Linked DNA regions of Homo sapiens. The protein of the gene in region 1 interacts with the protein of each later gene in a biochemical or structural test. Each region holds a gene or a part of one and is shown on either strand. Other genes may lie near its edges.

What was found.
Region 2: the proteins of XPO5 (region 1) and ZNF346 form a complex in vitro, tested with the Homo sapiens proteins (one study listed by BioGRID).

The regions. Positions count from the first base shown.
Region 1 is NC_000006.12:43,559,012-43,566,042, forward strand, and holds part of XPO5 (exportin-5), read right to left. Parts: intron 6,726-7,031; coding exon 6,649-6,725; intron 3,397-6,648; exon of another isoform or gene 3,336-3,396; coding exon 3,236-3,335; exon of another isoform or gene 2,389-3,235; intron 1,997-2,388; coding exon 1,913-1,996; intron 1,293-1,912; coding exon 1,167-1,292; intron 1-1,166. UniProt on the Homo sapiens protein: Mediates the nuclear export of proteins bearing a double-stranded RNA binding domain (dsRBD) and double-stranded RNAs (cargos). XPO5 in the nucleus binds cooperatively to the RNA and to the GTPase Ran in its active GTP-bound form.
Region 2 is NC_000005.10:177,025,694-177,032,724, forward strand, and holds part of ZNF346 (zinc finger protein 346), read left to right. Parts: intron 1-7,031.

The sequences.
Region 1 (7,031 bases):
TGTGGCCGGGTGCGGTGGCTCACGCCTGTAATCCCAGCACTTTGGGAGGCCGAGGCGGGTGGATTGCCTGAGCTCAGGAGTTTGAGACCAGCCTGGGAAAAACAGTAAAACCCTGTCTCTACTAAAATACAAAAAATTAGCCAAGTGTGGTGGTGGGCACCTGTAGTCCCAGCTACTTGGGAGGCTGAGGCAGGAGAATTGCTTGAACCCAGGAGGCAGAGGTTGCAGTGAGCCAAGATCGTGCCACTGCACTCCAGCCTCGGTGACAGGGTGAGACTCCGTCTCAAAAAAAAACACAGAACACCAGTGTGTGCTATGTGCTAGGCAAATTCCTTAAGAAAATAAGGGGACCCTTGAATGTGCACCATTCTCTGATGTTACAAATTGAGATTAACAATCTGTCAACTGCAAGAGCTCTTAGCAGGGAATTCATGAGCAACTCTCTACTGAGGTAGTGAGCAATCTTTGCTTCCACTCTCACTCCCCTCATTTCCCTTTGTAACTCTCACTTGGCCTCCAGAAGCAATGCTTAGATATTGCCTCCTCTTGGAATCTTCCTGACTCAACCCTCCTATGTACTTCCAAAGCATTCTGCTTTTAACCCCTGAATAGCAATTATTACATTGTATGGTCACTGCTCTTGCCCTAGCACCTAGCCCAATACTTATGATATATTAAGTACTCTCATATGGAAGAGCAGTTATAATAACCAGTAAGGACTGATTTCTTCCTAAGGAATAAGAAAATATGTCCAGTAAAGGAATCTTAGTGATGAAGAAGGGCTGTTAATAATGCCAATCAGTCTTTTTTATGTTTCCCCCGAGACAGGGTCTCACTCTCATTGCCTAGGCTGGAGTGCAGTGCTGCGATCTCAGCTCAATGCAGCTTCAACTTCCCAAGCTCAGGTGATCCTCCCACCTTAAGCCTCCCCAGTAGCTGGGTCTACAGGTGCATACCAACATGCCCTGCTAATTTTTTTGTATTTTTAGTAGAGACGAGGTTTTGCCATGTCGCACAGGCTGGTCTCCAACTCCTGGGCTCAAGCGATCCTCCCGCCTCAGCCTTCCATAGAGCTGGGATTATAGGCGTGAGCCACCGCACCCAGCCTCAAAGTCTTATTATGTGTATTCACCTACATTCCACATGTTTAGATTCCCATTATATACCTTGACCAAGTTAGTCATGGAAGCACGAAGATATTTTGGTATTATTGCTAATAGCAAAGGATCACGGGACAGGATTTCATGCCTGAAGAGGGCTCCCCAAGTCATCTGAGTTGAAGAGCGTAGAAACTAAAGAGAAAAAAAAAAGAAAACGTCAAAGGATTTGGATTCTATATAACCCAGATTATTACTTAGCAGTTATCAACTACATTTTTTCATAGAAATAAATCTGTACAATACTTTGAAGCTGTCTCTACTGCAATTTATCAGTAATGACCACCCACTATGGACCACATGTTAGTAAGACAGGCTGTGGATCAAGGAAATTACCTGGAATGTGAGCTGAATTTTACTACTTTCTCTTCTTTGCAAAAAAGGATACTGGAATCTCAGAGTGATATTAGAAGGACAATTTTGAACAGAGTGAAATTAATTTTATAATACAATTAATCAGACTTTTGTTTCAAAAATCTTTATAACTTTAGTACTAAACCACCTGGGACACACCTCACATGTGACTGAGTACAATCAGAATATTACCTAAAGGGAAAAGCTGCTGACCTAGACAAGTGCACTGTTTGGCTCAGGAAGAAGAGCCAATAATTCTCTTAATGAAATGACACTACGGTCATTCCCCAAGGCCTGAAGAGTCACATTTTATACATGATCTACAATAATATTTCAGGACACAGTGCTTGACATTGGTTCACCTAACTAAACTTTTGAGAAGTTACCTGTATAAAGTTTACCTGACTTGGATGGGTTGTGAAAGCAAGAAAAGATTCCAGGTATTTTCCAAAGTTTGATGGTGTTTCTACATCAGAATCTGCACCCTGTAGGAGAAGACCACTATATTAACGGTGTTGATCGAGAAAAGCAGGAGAGGAAAAAGCAGGGAAGTAATAAAAACAGATAAATTAAACCCTCAAAAAATGTTGTTTCAAAAGGACTTTGTATTTCCTTTTGGCTAAAGAAAGGCATCACTTCAAGGGCTAAAATATAGGTTACTTTGCCTACTCAATCATCATCATTACTTTGCCTACTCAATCATCATCATTAAAACCCATTCTGTGGTCAAACAGTAAAATAAAAAACACTCATTTCAGAAATTACAGAAAGAAAAAAAATCTGTATTACTTCCTCAGACCTTACCTATTCACATCTCTGTGTCCCAACCTATTACCTAATCCCTTCAATAGTTTCTTTTCTTTTTTTTTTCTTTTAGATGGAGTCTCACTCTGTTGCTCAGGCTGGAGAGCAGTGGCACGATCTCGGCTCACTGCAACCTCTACCTCCAGGGTTCAAGCAATTCTCCTGCCTCAGCCTCTCGAGTAGCTGGGATAACAGGCATGCACCACCACGCCTGGCTAATTTTTGTATTTTTAGTAGAGACAGGGTTTCACCATGTTGGCCAGGCTAGTCTCAAACTCTTGACCTCAGGTGATCTGCCCACCTCACCCTCCCAAAATGCTGGGATTACAGGCATGAGCCATTGCACCTGGCCCCCTCAATGGTTGCTTATCTCTGAAACTATCCTCTCTAACCATTTAAACCACCACAAAAAGATATAACATCAATTGCAAATGTCTGTTCCAATGTCCTATCTTCCAACTTATAAGACTGAGTATTAAATATTTCTCTAATGGCAGGTTTTCCAGGTCAATCAGACTCAAGTTTTCTTTTGTGCTCCAATAATACATCCCTTAGATTGGGAAAAGAGTTCTTTATTCAAGTCCATGTTTCGTGGGCTAACAGAATGTAAAAGCATAAAGCACTCAGCAGATTGAGGTTCTGTAAGTACCAAAATTCACAAGAAACCAACGTTGACTTTATGGAATAATAGACGTGGATATCTGACGTTGGTATAACTATTTTATTGTTAAAAGAAATTTAGATCACTCAAACACTATTCTATTAAGATAATTTAATCTATAGAATCATGCAATAACTTGTATGGCACTGCCCCATCAGGCTAAAATCAATGACATTTGCAACCCCTCATTGAAACATAAGTTTCTAAATGCTCTTCCCAAATGGGCTTGAAGCTCTCCAGAAAGCAAACACTAGCTCACCAGCAATGCACACAGCTGATTGCCCAGCGCACACAACACCTGACAGAGCCTCTTCAGAAAGACGTAGTGTTTTTCTACCAAACCTCCTCCATCAGCAGTCCTGTAAGATGAGAATTCCTTATATCACCAACAAAATTAAAAAGGCTGTAATAAAAACATCACTTTGTGTCTCATTTCTCCAAGTCATTTAGTTAGGTCTGTAATTCAGCAGAATTCCAATAGCTTTGCTAAATTAAAAATTTTTTAAAATCTTTTTAACTTATTTGGTGGCAAAACCTGACCTAAAATGATATAGGACTATTCACACAAACAGCAATTAATAACTATGAGTGTGAAAAGCAACTATATTAGCTGTCTTCTGGAGGAGGACAGTATCACATAAAAGGCAAGGACCTTGGGGTAAACGAGGCCTAGGCTTTAGGAACATTGAAGGACAGGATGGTATTATGGTGTCCAATGCAATCTCTGGAGTTTGACTACCTGGGTTGGAATCACCGCTTTATGAACCATGGTTGTGGTATGGCACCCACAGCACAAACAGAAACGGGACACCACTTAGTATGAGTGTCATGATGTCTATGGAACTAAGAATTGGACCTAAAAATAGTAACTACCCAAAAAACGTTATTCATTTAATTAACAGGATCCCTTAAAACAGTGCTGCAGTCTCTACAGGGAAGGAAGCCATGAAAAATGTGTATTAGAATGGGTAGTAAGAGATTTTAAGTAAAACACATGTGCCTCATACCTTTTCATTTCTCCTTGGGACCAAAAGTAAAGAGTATCAAAAAGATGGTGTTGCAACAGATTCAACTACTTATAATATATAGTTCTGCCTGACTTCCTGGTAAGAAACATGTTATCAAGAAATGCTTTAATATTTTTTCTTTTTTTTTGAGACACGATCTCGCTGTCACACCTAGGCTGGAGTACAGTGGCTCAAATATGGCTCACTGAAGCCTCAAACTAATGGGCTTCAAGGGATCCTCTCACTGCAGCCTCCCAAGTAGCTGGGACTATAAAGCGCATGCCACCATACGCAGCTAATTTATTTTCATTTTGATTTTTTGTAGGGATGAGGTCTTGCCATGTTGCCCAGACTGGTCTTGAACTTCTGGGTCCAAGCAATCTTCACGGCTTGGCCTCCCAAAATATGGGGATTACAGGCATGAGCCATTGGGCCCGGCCTTGCTTTAGTATTTTCTAGAGCAACTGGAAGAAAGTACATGGAAGCCCTTACAGTCATGCATCACTTAACGACTGGGGATGTGTACTGAGAAATGCATCGTTAAGTGATTTTATCACCATTTGAACATGATAGAGTGTACTTACACAAACTTACACAACAGGAATAGCCTATTACACATCTAGGCTATATAGCATAGCCTATTGCTCCTAGGCTACAAACCTCTATAGCATGTTACCGTAGCCAATACTGCAGGCAACTGTAACACAATGGTAAGTATTTGTGTATCTAAATACAGAAAAGGTACAGTAAAAATATGGTATAAATGATAAAAGATGGTATACCTGTAGAAGGCACTTACCATGAATGACTGCAGGACAGAAAACTGTACTGGGTGGGTCCAGAGTGAGTGGTGAGTGAATGTGGAAGCCTAGGACATTACTGGACCCTACTGTAGACTTTATAAATTCTGTACCCTTAGGCTAAACTAAACTTATTTATTTATTTAGAGATGGAGTCTCACTCTGTTGCCTAAGCTGGAGTGCAGGGGCACAATCCTGGCTCACTGCAACTTTCGCCTCCCAGGTTCAAGCGATCTCCTGCCTCAGCCTCCCAAGTAGCTAAGAATACACACATGCACCACCACGCCCGGCTAATTTTTGTACTTTTAGTAGAGATGGGGTTTCACCATGTTGGCCAGGCTGGTCTTGAACTCCTGACCTCAGGTGGTCCATCTGCCTTGGCCTCCTAAAGTGCTGTGATCACAAGCATGACCCAGCGTACCTGGCCCGCTAAATTTATTTAAAAAATTTTCCAGCCGGGCACGGTGGCTCATGCCTATAATCCCAGTACTTTGGGAGGCTGAGGTGGGTGGATCACCTGAGATCAGGAATTCAAGACCAGCCTGACCAACAGGGAGAAACCCTGTTTCTACTAAAAATACAAAATTAGCTGGCCATGGTGGTGCATGCCTGTAATCCCAGCTTCCTGGGAGGGTGAGGCAGGAGAATCGCTTGAACCCGGGAGGCAGAGGTTGCAGTGAGCTGAGATCGCATCATTGCACCCCAGCCTGGGCAATAAGAGCGAAACTCCATCTCAAAAAAAAAAAAACTTCCTTTCTTCAATAATGAATTAACTTTAGCTTACTGTAACTTTTTAACTTTATAAACTTTTAAAAACTATTTTTTTGAGACAAGGTCTCAGTCTGTTGCCCAGGCTGGAGTGTAGTGGCATGATCATGGTTCACGATTGCCTGGACTTCCCAGCTCTAGTGACCCTCCCACCTCAGCCTTCTGAGTAGCTGGGACTACAAGTACACATACCACCACACCCGACTAATTTCTGTATTTTTTTGTAGAGATGGACTCTTGCCATGTTGCTCAGGTTGGTCTCAAACTCCTGACTCAATCAATCCTCCCGCCTTGGCCTCCCCAGGTGCTGAGGTTACAAATGTTAGCTAGCACATTCAGCCATGACTGCCTCATTTTCTCTCTTTTTTTTTTTTTTTTGAGACAGAGTCTCACTTTGTTGCCCAGTCTGGAGTAGAGTGGTGTGATCTCAGCTCACAGCAACCTCTGCCTCCCAGGTTCAAGATACTCTCCTGCCTCAGCCTCCTGAGTAGCTGGGATTACAGGCGTGCGCCACCAGGTCTGGCTAATTTTTGTATTTTAGTAGAGATGGGGTTTCACCGTGTTGGCCAGGCTGGTCTCAAACTCCTGGCCTCAAGTGATCCACTTGCCTTGGACTCCCAAAGTGCTGGAATTACAGGTGTGAGCCACCACATCTGGCCAATGCCTCATTTTCTTATCCAAAAACACTGTCGATTGACAGCTAGCATTTAAGTAAGAACTTCAGGTGGGCACAGGGGCTCACTCCTGTAATCCCAGCACTTTGGGAGGCTGAGGCAGGTAGACCACCTGAGGTCAAGAGTTTGAGACCAGAGCGGTCAGCACGGCAAAACCCTGTCTCTACTAAAAATAGAAAAATTAGCCAGGCATGGTGGTGCGCCTGTAATCCCAGCTACTCGGGAGGCTGAGGCAGGAGAATCGCTTGATCCCAGGAGACGGAGGTTGTGGTGAGCCAAGATCGCGCCACTGCACTCCAGCCTGGGTGACAGAGCGAGATCCATCTCAAAATAAAAAAAAAAAAAAGAACTTCAGATAAATCCAAATAAGATAGAAAAATGACAAAGAAATTAGAAAACACACTGAAAAGTAAAGATACTCACTGTGCGGCGGAGAGTATATAATGCATGGCAACATCTCCAAATAAGACCATCAAGGGCTTCCGGTCTTCCAACTTGCCCTAGACCCAATTTTAGGGAAACATAGTCATATAAACTATACTTCAAAGTACCGACATCTTCTGTAAGTATATAATCAAATATATTGACTTCATAATTTCTTATATACCCCAGGGTTTAGTGAAACACTAGAAAGAAGCCCAACTCTTTAAAACCAAATCTGGATAAACTACATATTTTTTCTCAAAACTATCAGTTTAGTGAAAAAGCATAAACTTACATTTTTAAATGTGTTCGGCAGGCCGAGTGCGGTGGCTCATGCCTGTAATCCCAGCACTTTGGGAGGACGAGGCAGGCGGAACAACTGA
Region 2 (7,031 bases), on another chromosome or scaffold:
CATCATTTGCCTATTTTGTAATTGGGCTGTTTGTCTTCTACTGAGTTGTAAGAGTTATCTGTGTATTCTGGGTACAAGTCTTTTATTATAGATATGATTTCCAGGTATTTCCCCCTGACTGTGACTTGTTTTTTCATTTTCTAAACAGTGCCTTTTGAAGCACAAAAGTTTTAAGTTTTGATGAGATTAAATTTATCATTTTTTATCCTATGTATTGTGCTTTAGTGTCATATCTAAGAACTCTTTATCTTAACCCAAGATTTGAGAAATTTTCTCTTGTAGATCTTCCTTATTATTATTATTATTTTTTTTTTTGAGATGCAGTCTCACCCTGTCACCCAGGCTGGAGTGCAGTGGCATGATCTCAGCTCACTGCAACCTTCGTCTCCCTGGTTCTCCTGGAGGAGGTCAAGCGATTCTCCTGCCTCAGCGTCCCGAGTAGCTGGGATTACAGGTGTTCACCACCACATCTGGCTAATTTTTGTATTTTTAGTAGAGATGGGGTTTCACCACGTTGGCCAGGCTGGTCTCAAACTCCTGACCTCAAGTGATCTGCCCCCTTCAGCCTCCCAAAGTGCTGGCATTACACGCGTGAGCTACCATGCCCAGCCCCTTCCTCATCTTGTTTCTGAAGGAGTTTGTGAAGGATGGATTGGTAATTTTTTTTTTTTTTTTTTTTTTTTTGAGACAGAATCCCACTCTATCGCCCAGGCTAGAGTGTGGTGGCACGATCTCAGCTCACTGCAGCCTCCCTGTCCCAGATTTAAGTGATTCTCCCGCCTCAGCCTCCTGAGTAGCTGGGATTACAGGAGGGTGCTACCACACCCAGCTAATTTTTTTGTATTTTTAGTAGAGACAGAGTTTCACCATGTTGGCCAGACTGGTCTTGAACTCCTGACCTCAGGTGATCCACCAGCCTTGGCCTCCCGAAGTGTTGGGATTACAGGTGTGAGCCACCACACTCAGTTGGTAATATTTCTTTTTACAGTATTTTATAGAAGTGTTGACCTGCAAGGAAGAGGCTAACACACAAAATATGATTTGAAGAGTTTACTTGATTTTTAAAGGCAAAAAAATGTGGACAGGGAGTGGGACTCATACAAAGTTGTTTATCAAGAATTCTCATTGATTTACAGAAATAACATTGGTTAGTGATTGGCTGTACATTAAGCTGTAGGATGTAGGATATAGCGTCAGGTAGGGCATTATTAGGTTAATCCTTACCCACTTGTGGCAATAGCAAGCAGTTTTGATAGATGAATCTTAGCTCAAAAAGGGAGAATAGGAAGTGATTGCTATCTCATTTTAATATCTCTCTGGGCCCTGATCATTTAAAAAAACTTGGATTCTTTAGATAAAAGTTATCTTCTTTTTTTTCAGACAGAGACTCACTCTTCCGCCCAGACTGGAGTGCAGTGGTGTGATCTCGGCTCACTGCAACCTTTGCCTCCCGGGTTCAAGCGATTCTCGTGCCTCAGCCTCTCAGGTAGCTGGGATTACAGGCGCCTGCCAGCACACCCAGCTAATTTTTGTATTTTTCGTAGAGACGGAGTTTCACCATGTTGGTCAGGCTGGTCTCAAACTCCTGACCTCAGGTGATCCGCCTCAGCCTCCCAAAGTGCTGGGATTACAGGGGTGAGCCATCACGCCCAGCCGATAAAAGTTATTTTCTGACCTGCCTGGGCAACGTGGAGAAACCCTGTAAATTTTTGTAAAATTTGTGTTTTTGTAAAAATACAAACATTAGCCAGGTGTGGTGGCTCACATCTGTAATCCCAGCTACTCAGGTGGCTGAGGCACGAGAATCGCTTGAACCCAGGAGGCTAAGGTTGCAGTGAGCCGAGATTGTGCCACTGCACTCCAGTCTAGGCAACACAGTTGAGACTTTGTCTCAAAAAAAAAAAAAAAAAAAAGTTATCACCAGTGAAGCTACCTGGGCCTAAGCTTTTCTTTCTTCCTTTCCTTTTTTTTTTTTTAAATTCTCTATTTATTTATTTAGAGACAGGGTCTCTGTTGCCCAGGCTAGAGTGCAGTGGCACAATCATAGCTCACTGCAGCCTCAGACTCCTTCAAACTCAAAGCTAGGACTGCAAGGGCATACCACCATGCCCAGCTAATTTTTGTGTTTTTTTAAATAGAGGGTCTTGCTCTGTTGCCCAGGCTGGTCTGAAACTCCTGGCCTCTAGTGATCCTCCTGCCTCAGCCTCCCAAAGGGTTAGGATTATAGGCAAGCATGCGCCATGGCACCCAGCTGGCTTCGGCTTTTCTTTGTGGAAAGGTATTTGATTATTCATTTTCTTTACTTGTTTTAAGTGTACACAGAATATTTTGTTTCTCCTTGTGTCACTTTTTTTTTTTTTTTTTTTTTTTTTTTTTTTTGAGACGGGGTCTTGCCAGGCTGGAGTGCAGTAATGATCACTGCAGCCTTCGCCTCCCAGGTTCAAGCAATTCTCCTGCCCCAGCCTCCCGAGTAGCTGGGATTACAGGCATGTGTCACCATGCCCGGCTAACTTTTTTGTATTTTTAGTAGAGACGGGGTTTCACTGTGTTGGCCAGGCTGGTCTTGAACTCCTCGAACTCTAAAGTGATCTGTCCGCCTCTGCTTTCCCAAAGCACTGGGATTACAGATGTGAGGTCCCTGATTATTTTCTTGGTTAGTCTAGCTAAGAATTTGTCATTTTCTTGATCTTTTCTAGTTTCTAAGGTAAGATCTTATGTTGCTGATTTGAGTGATTTGAGATCCTTCTTTTCTGATGTAGATGTTTAAAATTATAAATTTCTCTCTTAAGCACTTGTGACGTTTTATATATATATATATATATATATATTTCCCTCCATAGTTCCTGGCTCACAGCTTCTATAACCCTTGTACTTTCCTCAGTGACTAAAGCAGTAAGAGTATCTTCTGTTAAAATATTTGGCCTTTTGTCCTTGCTTCCTGAAACACCTCTGGAACTGCTCCAGAGCAAGAAAGGTGAAAAACAGACTTTTGTTATTTATAACAAGCCCCTTTCTTTTTTTTTTTTTTTTTTTTTTTTTTTTATGAGATGGAGTCTCGCTCTGTTGCCCAGGCTGGAGTGCAGTGGTGCGATCTCGGCTCACTGCAAGCTCCGCCTCCCAGGTTCATGCCATTCTCCTGCCCCAGCCTCCCAAGTAGCTGGGACTATAGGCGCCCACCACCACACCTGGCTAATTTTTTGTATTTTTAGTAGAGACGGGGTTTCACCATGTTAGCCAGGCTGATCTCGATTTCCTGACCTCGTAATCTGCCCTCCTCGGCCTCCCAAAGTGCTGGGATTACAGGCGTGAGCCACCGCACCCGGCCATATAACAAGCCCCTTTCAGCCACACCTTGGTACATGTTAATAGGGTGATTTTTGAGAAGTCCCTAGATTACCACATTCTGGTTGGCTGGTTGCCATAGGAACCAACCATGTGCTCAGAGGCTTGGAAGTTACAGCCCCCCATCTTGAGAGGGTAGAAAGGAGCTGAAGGTTGAATTGATCACCGATAGCCAGTGATTTAATCAACCATGCCTATGTAATGAAGCCTTCATAACAACCCAAAGACCTCAGTTTAGGGGCTTCCAGGAAGGTGAACAAGAACACATTCATGTGCTGGAAGTGTGGCACACCCCAATTCCATGGGGATAGACGCTCCTACACATTAGACCCTTCCAGACCTGGCCGTATGTATCTCTTTATCTATTTGTATCCTTTAACATATCTTTTAGGTTGGCCTGACCCAGTGGCTCCTGCCTGTAATTCCAAAACTTTGAGAGGCCAAGGCAAGAATGTTAGTGGCCATGAATCTCAATTTCTGCCTCCTCAGAAGAAAGAATTCAACCAAAGGGGCATAAGGCAAAGTGAGAGACCAAGGCAACTCTTAGAGCAAGAGTGAAAGTTTATTAAAAAGTTTTAGGGCAGGAATGAAAAGAAGTAAAGTATACTTGGAAGAGGACCAAGATGGCGACTTGAGAGAGACAAGTAGGCGGTTTGACCTTTGACTTGGGATCTTACACATTCACACGCTTGCTGGGTCTTGCGTGTTACTTCTCCCCTGGTTTTTCCCTGAGTTCTGTGAGCTGCTCTAGCAAATTAATTGAATCCAGGGGTGTCATGGAAACCTCGATTTATAGCCGGTTGGTCAGAAAAACAGGTGAAAGAATGTGGAACCTGCAATTGGCATCAGAAGTAGGGCTCAGTCTTGTAGGAATAAGCCCTCAACCTGTAGGATCTGAAGCTGTCTCCAGGTAGATAGTGTCAGAATTGATTTGAATTAGGGGACACCAACTGGTGTCCACTGCAGAATTGAGTGCTTGGTTTCTGGGAGGAGAAAACCCACACATATGGTCACAGAAGCGTTCTGTATTGTAAAAGTAAAGTAGGATAAACTGAGTTTTTTTTCTCCAGAGCACTGCTTTAGTTGCAACTCATAAATTTTTGAATGTTTTATTTTCACTTAAATCAGTTCAAAATAATTTCTAATTTCCCTTGTAAAATTTCTTCTTTGATACATGTTATTCAATTTCTAAATATTTGAGGATTTCCCAGATTTCTTCCTATTGTTGATTTCTGATTAAATTCCATTGCGTTCAAAGAATATACTTGAGATGAGTTCAGTCCTTTTAAATGTAGTGCAACTGGGCTGGGGGCGGTGGCTCACGCCTGTAATCCCAGCACTGGGAGGCCGAGGCGGGTGGATCATTTGAGGGCAGGAGTTCAAGACCAGCATGGCCAATATGGTGAAACCCCCATCTCTACTAAAATACAAAAATTAGCCGGGCATGGTGGTGCCGTGCCATGGGGTTTCACCGTGTTAGCCAGGATGGTCTCGATTTCCTGACCTCGTGATCCGCCCGCCTCAGCCTCCCAAAGTGCTGGGATTATAGGCGTGAGCCACCATGCCTGGCTATTTCATTTTTAAATAACAGCTTTATTGACGTAAATCTCACATTCCATAAAATTCACCTGTTTAAAATGTACAATTCTGTGGTTTTTAGTATATTCACAGAGTTCTGCAACCATCACCACTGTCTAATTTTAGAACATTTTCATCACCCCAATAAAGAAACCCTATACCTAGGAGCAATCATCCCTGGCAACGACTTATCTCCTCTCTTTATGGATTGATGCCTATTCTGGACATTTCATGTAAATAGAATTGTATAAATATGTGGCATTTTTGTGACTGGCTTCTTTCGCTTAGTGTAATTTTTTTTTTTTTTTTTTTTGGTTTTTTTTTGAGACGACATTTTGCTCTTGTTGCCCAGGCTGGAGTGCAATGGCATGATCTAGGCTCACTGCACCCTCTGCCTGTAGAGTTCAAGCGATTCTCTTTTTTCTGTTTTATTTTGTTTTGAGACAGAGTCTCGCTCTGTCGCCCAGGCTGGAGTGCAGTGGCGCGATCTCGGCTCACTGCATGCTCCGCCTCCTGGGTTCACGCCATTCTCCTGCCTCAGCCTCCCGAGTAGCTGGGATTACAGGCATGCGCCCCACAGCCAGCTAATTTTGTATTTTTAGTAGAGACAGGGTTTCTCCATGTTGGCAAGGCTAGTCTCAAACTCTCAACCTCAGGTGATCTGCCGCCTTGGCCTCCCAAAGTGCTGGGATTACAGGCATGAGCCACTGCGCCTGGACACTTAGTGTAATGTTTGCAGGATCATTTGGCTGGATATAGAATTCTTAGTTGACATTTTTATTCTTTTTCACCACTTTGAATATGTCATTCCAGTGCCTTCTGGCCTTAATTGTTTTCAAATAAGAAGTTGTCATTAATTGAATTATTTCACTGTACATGATGAGTCATTTTTCTCTCTCTCTCACCGCTTTCAGGATTTTCTGTCTTTGCCTTTCAACAGTTTGTGATGTGTCTAGGTGTAGCTCTCTTCACATTTTTCCTAGTTTGGGTTCCTTGAGATTTTGGAATGTGTAGATTAATGTTTTTCATCAAATATGGGAGGTTTTTGGACATTTTCTTCAAATATTTTTTTCTACTCTCTCTCTCTTCTCTCTTCTTCTGAGGCTCTCCTTACACATATGTTAGTATGCTTGAAGTTTTTCCATAATCTCTGAAGCTTTGTTCATTATTCTTCAATGTTATTTCTCTTTGTTCTTCAGATCAGCTATTTCTATTGCTGTATCTTCAAGTTCACTGATTCTTCTGCCATTTTGAACTTGCTGTTGAGCTCCTCCAGCAAATTTATTGTATTATAATTTCAACTCCAGAATTTCCATTTGTTTGTTTTATTAGTAGCAGATCATCAGTACCCTTACATTTGCTTTCTTCATGCCTTTTCTTTTTTCTTTTTTTTTTTTTTTTTTTTTTTTTTGAGATGGATTTTCACTCTTGTTGCCCAGGAGTGCAATGGCACAATCTCAGCTCACTGCAACCTCTGCCTCCAGATCCAAGCAATTCTCCTGCCTCAGCCTCCCGAGTAACTGGGATTATAGGTATGCGCCACCACACCTGGCTAATTTTTTGTGTTTTTAGTACAGATGGAGTTTCACTATGTTGGTCAGGCTGGTTTTGACCTCCTGACCTCAGGTAATCCACCCACCTTGGCCTCCTAAAGTGCTGGGATTACAGGCGTGAGCCACTGCACCCAGCCTTTTTTTGTTTTTGTTTTTGTTTTTAGACAGAGTCTTGCTCTGTCACCAGGCTAGAGTGCAGTGGCGCAGTCTTGGCATGCTGGGATTACAAGCATGAGCCACTGCACGCAGCTTTTTTTTTTTGAGACAGAGTTTCGCCCTTGTCACCCAGGCTGGAGTGCAATGGCACAATCTCAGTTCACTGCAACCTCCACCTCCTGGGTTCAAGCGATTCTCCTGCCTCAGCCTGCTGAGTTAGCTGGGATTACCAGCCCTCTACCACACCTGGCTAATTTTTGCACTTTTTAATAGAGATGGGGTTTTACCACGTTGGCCAGCCTGGTCTCAAACTCCTGACCTCAGGTGATCCGCCCGCCTCGGCCTCCCAAAATGCTGACATTACAGGTGTGAGCCACCATGCCCGGCCTCTTCATGCCCTTT